2 separate regions of the Homo sapiens genome follow, and region 2 is linked to region 1. The links come from fine-mapping of genetic effects on gene expression. Tissue or cell type: whole blood. Region 1 holds a variant in brackets; the other region holds the start of a gene. All regions are shown on one strand. Distances are from middle to middle.

Region 1 (2,687 bases):
TGATCCACCCGCCTTGGCCTCCCAAAGTGCTGGGATTACAGGTGTGAACCACCGCCCCTGGCCAATACAATTTTTTTTTTTTAATCTAGCATTGGTGTAATTGGAGTCCTAGGAGAGCAGTGTGGGGCTGAAAAAGTTTTCAAGGAAATAATGGCTATTTCCCACATTTGGGGGAAGGCATGAGCCTACAGATTCAAGAATCTGAGCAAACCCCAAAGAGGATAAACCCAAAGAAACCCACACCAAGGCACCTCAGAGTCAAACTTTTGAAAACTCAACAAAATCTTAAGAGCAGCAGGAGACAATGCATTCCCTCCAGGGAAAAACAATTCGAAGGGTAGCAGTTCCTCATCAGCAGTCACAGAGGCCAGAGGAGGTGTCACAGCATCATTTTTCACATACTGAAAGAAGGAAAATCTGTACCCCAAATTCTATACGCAGTGAAAATATCCTTTAGGAATGAAGCTAAAATCAGACATTTCGACATGAAGGAAAACTAAGAGAATTTGTTGCCAGGAAGTTGACCTTAAAAGAATAGTGAACTAACAGAAGTTCTTCAAAGAAGGGATATAGGAATGGAAGGAAACCTGGAACATCAGGAATGAGGGACGAACATAAAGAGTAAAAATATGGGTGAATATAATAGATGATCCTTTCCCTCTTGAGGAAATCATACTTGACAGTTGAAGCCAAAATTACTGTCTGATGTGGGTCTCATTATATGTAGAGGAAACACATAAGACAATTATAAAGGAACCTAGGTGGAGGTAAAGTTTCTACACTTATTCGAAACGTAAAATGTCAATACCAGTAGACTGTGATAAGTTACAGATTATAGTATGATGCCTAGAGCAACCACTAGAAAATCTATATCAAGGGATATACTCAAAAACACTACTGATAAATCAAAGTGGAATTCAAGTAATTCACAAGAAGGCAGGAAATAAAAGAAACAAATAATGCAGATGCCTGAGCCATACTCCAGACCTACTGAATCAGAACCTCCAGGACTGGTGCCTGGGAATATGGATTTTTATTTAGCAACTACTCCTGAGGATTCCAGTAATCAGCCAGGCTTGAGAACATCTGGAGTAGACCAGTATTTTTTAAACAGTAAGTTGCCAACCTG[G/A]TGAGTAGGTCGGAAAGTTAATTAAGATGATTATGGGCAGGTTTTTTGTTTTGTTTTGTTTCTGTTGTTGTTAATGAACTTAGAATACAGTGTACTAGAAAAAAAAAGCTAGAATGTATGATACTTGGTCACGGTAATTTTCATTTCCTGAAGTTTGGAGGTGGGGAGTATATGATATATTCATATGTGTGGGCCCAACCTTTGGATAAGAGTAGGCCAGAAGAGATCTCATGCCTCCAGGAATGACCTTCAACTAAGTAATGCCCAACAGGAGTTGATAGACATGTATCCCAGCTTCCATACTATATCCAGCATATGATCATGGGAGGAAGGCTACACATGGCATTAACTGCTCATTAATGTACCCTGTATGTGTTGGCTTTGGTCCCTTCTCTGTTCTCACTTTCCCATTCCCCTACACGTGTTTCATGGGATAATTTCTCAAACTGTTTTGATTCAAATCCTTGCCCCTGACTCTACTTCTTAGGGAACCTAGCTAAAGACACCTTCTCTTTCTAGGCAAGATGCACTTGGATTCTTTTCATTGCAGGGAGGCAGGAATTGCATCAGGACCTAGCCACAAGGGAATAAAGGAGCAGCTACTCCCTCCCGGTGCAGTGCCCTGCAGGTGTCAGCTGTTACCTGTGCTGCTCCTGTGTCACAAAGGATGAGCTTCTTCAACTGTCTGAATAATCCTGGGTCCCAGAGCAGGCATGATACCCTTCACAATATCGCAAGAAGAGGGAGTAAATGCTTACCCCTAGCCAGGCCTCTCTGTCAGTGTGTGTATATGGGAGAGGGCATTTAAAACCCTATTGGTTTTTTTTGCCTCAGTACACAAAACATTTTTCAATGATGATACCCAGATACAATTATCTTACCACTGAGGGGACAAGTTTCTACCCTCCTCCTAAGGGATTCTGAAAGCCAGCAGGCATGATTTCTAAAGGAGCTTTAAGCAGGAGCAAAGCTTAGCTGACCATACGTGTGTGTGTCTCTCAAAGGCGGCATACTGGGGTCTTGGTGTGCAACCTGGGAACAGTGTTCACAGATCTCCAATGCCAGTTGTTCTCATTTAAGGAAAAGTCATTACCCAGAGTCCAGGAATGTCAGGCCCCTGCAAGGGATTTTCCTATGGCCTGTCTTTCCTATGGCCTCTCTTTGTTAGCTTTTGCTGCAGCAGTGCTTCATCACAAACAGCCCCAGAATTTCAGGGATGTTTAATCAGCTGTTGCTCAGCCCTGATGTCTATGTGTTGGCTGATCTTGGCTGCGTTTGGCTGATCGCACTGCTGCTCTTGGCTGGGCCCACTCAGTCATGAGGGATCAGCTGAACTAGAACAGGGCATGGCCGGAGCAGTTCTGCTTCATGCGTATCTCGCTCCTCTTGGGGCCAGCAAGTTAGCCTGAATACATTCTTCTTATGGCAGTGTCATAAAGAGGGCAAGGCCAGCCCAAACACTTTCCAAACCTTTGATTATGTTCTGTCTGCTGACATCTCACTGGCCAAAGCAAGTTAAATGGCTAAGCCCAAAGTCGGGTGTGGGGATGCACTTTCC
Region 2 (2,687 bases), 180 kb after region 1:
TGCCATCCCTGCTGCCCCTGTATAGGACTCTTCCTCCTTTGTCCTCCCCAGTCACTGCCACCAGCCACAGAGGCAGCTAGGGCTCCTCAGAACATTCAGGTTGCTCTGAACACTGTACTCAACAGGGCAGATCCTCGTTGTGACTTTACTCCCTGCACCCCCACCACCCGCAACACTCTCACAAAGATCCCACCTCACTTGCTTACCCACGTCCCAATCTCCATGTCCCCATTTTCTATATCTCTAGGAGTCTCAGCTCCTGCACCTTCTTTCTCTCATCCTCTTAAGAAACAAATACTGCTGACCTCCAGCCGTTGGGACTTCCCGTAATTCTCAGCCACTGCCTCCTTCAGGGTCTCAGTCTCCACACTGTGGAGGAGCCCATTCTGGTCCACTGCACTTCAGTCCTTGCGCACTAGAAAGTCTCCACAGCTATTTATCCAGCACTCCAGGGCTCCAAGGCTTTGGCTGGCTCAACTTTGTCTGCCTAATAGAGTCCACATTCCTCTGCACTACAGACAATTCCATTCACTACTCACAGACCCAGCTTTCCTGGCCAGGATCATCAGCCACCACCACTCTCATCTCCGATCCTCTCACCATTGCATTGGGAAACCAAACTCTTTCCTCACCCTGTTCTGTGTCCTTGCACCTGCGGCTACTCTTGCCTGAATATCCAGTTCTTCCTTCCTGCTCCTGCATTGCAAATTCCTTTTCAACCTAATACCCAGCTCAAACATAACCAGCTCTGTAAAGGCAGCTCTGAAATTCTGGCCATTCATCGCCCCCGACAGCACTCTGTGCGCTCTGCCCCAGCAGTCGGCTCAACCCCGTGCCGCTGCACGTCTGCTCTCCTTGAGGCTCAGGTCCAGGGGTGTCGACTCCGCTGTGCTGCCTGTCCCTCGAGGCCCCTCACTCTGGGTTGTACCCCCATTTCCCAGCCGCCGCACCACCCCGTCTCCGGGCCTAGAACCCAGGGCAGGGCCAAGACTGCTTCCAGGCTCCGGCCCCGCACTCACCCGGCGCGCCCGGGGCAGCGCGGGCTGTCCCGGGAGCAGCTCGAGGACAAGGCCGAGGCGTGTCCCGCTCGCCAGCGCCACGGCCGCCATAGCCCAGGTCGCCCTCTGGGAAAGCGAGGGCGCGCCAGACCGGACCAGAGGCTGTTGGGGTCGCGGAAGAGCGCTCTGCACCTGGGCAGGCCTGACACGGCTACCCTGCGCCCTGCAGCCACCGGAGTAAGACCCCGACTCCACTCCCTGCCCGCCCCACGCCCGACTCCCCGTGCTCCACACCCGCCAGGCCCCAGCATCCGGGAGGCCGGGGCTCGGGCCGCTCCGGTTGCTCTAGGACGGCGGAGGGCGCCGCATCTCTGTGGTCCTCCTTTCTCGCTCGGGGAGGGAGGGGAGAGCGGTCCGGTTCTCCTGGAGACACGGACGATCCCAGGGACCGCTACCGGGGTAGGGGTGCAGGCGGCTGGGGAGGAATCCTTCCCCTGCGCTCTAGGCCACCCCTTCCTCTCCAGCTCGCTGCACCCTAGGTGGACAGATATTTGCTGATAGGAGGTAGCGGGTACTTCACTAGACTGCACCTGCTCTTTTATCTCTCCTTTTACCAGTTTTTGCATTCCCAGAGCAGACCTGTATTTTATGTCTTTTAACATTCTCATCTTTGTGCCTCTAACATGCGCCCGATGTCTAGCACCTCCTGGGGAGTTATTTCTTTAACTGCCAAGGAATATTTGTAGAATTGTCCACGAAAAGTCAAACTGTAAAATATTTGAAGGGATTTATCCTGAGCCAAATATGAGTGACCATGGCCCGTGCCACAGCCCCAGGAGATCCTGAGAACATGTGCCCAACGTGGTCGGGCTACAACTTGGTTTTACACATTTTAGGAAGACATAAGACATCAATTAATACATGTAAGATGTACGTTGGTTCGGTATGGAAAGGTGGGACAACTGGAAGAGGAGGCTTTCAGGACATAGGTGGATTCAAAGATTTTCTGAGTGGCAATTGGTTGAAAGAGTTAAGTTATTGTATAAAGACTTAGAATCAATAGAAAGGGATGTCTCAGTTAAGATAAGGGCTTGTGGAGACCAAAGTTTTATCATGCAGATGGAGCCTGTAGCAGGCTTCAGAGAATAGACTGCAAATGTTTCTCATCATTATCACACTACCGGATAGTCTGTGAGACTTAAAGAGGCTGTTCTATCAGTCTTAAGGTCTGTGTTGATGTTAATGCTGGTCAGCTGGTCCTGAATTTCAAAAGGTAGGGGAGCATAATGAGCCATGTCCAACTCCTCCTTCCCATTATGGCCTGAACCAGTTTTTCACGTTAACTTTGGAATGCCCTTAGCCAAGAGGAGAGATCCATTCATATGGTCAGAGGGCTTTGAATTTTATTTTTGGCTTACGGAATAAAAGAATGAATAAATGTTGAACCAGTTTTTCAGTTGAAGAAAGTAAGGCCCAAAGAGAGAAAATGGCTTACCTAACATTATGCAACATGCCAGGAAATTAAATTTTTTAAGAAGTGTGAAAATAAAGATTATTCAAATGAGAACAAAGACTATTATTCAGAGCTTGCTATATATGACAAGAGAGTCAGCCCTCATCACTTGCATTCAGCAGACTGAAAGTCAGGCAGAAGAGTGGGGAAAGCTTCACAGTGGAAAAAAGGAATGG

Evidence for each region. PIP is the estimated chance that this variant, and not a neighbour inherited with it, causes the effect.
Region 2: ZNF662 starts here. The variant in region 1 is fine-mapped to the expression of ZNF662 in whole blood (TOPMed, PIP above 0.99).

The regions. Positions count from the first base shown.
Region 1 is chr3:43,081,740-43,084,426 of GRCh38, reverse strand. The region is part of intron 1 of POMGNT2 (protein O-linked mannose N-acetylglucosaminyltransferase 2 (beta 1,4-)); the gene reads left to right. Among named protein-coding and RNA genes, the nearest start is that of POMGNT2-AS1, 3.0 kb to the left of the region's middle. The variant G/A (reference allele first, on the strand shown) is at 1,130.
Region 2 is chr3:42,904,774-42,907,460 of GRCh38, reverse strand. ZNF662 (zinc finger protein 662) reads right to left here and starts at 1,319. Exons shown (of 5, transcript NM_207404.4): 1 at 1,293-1,319.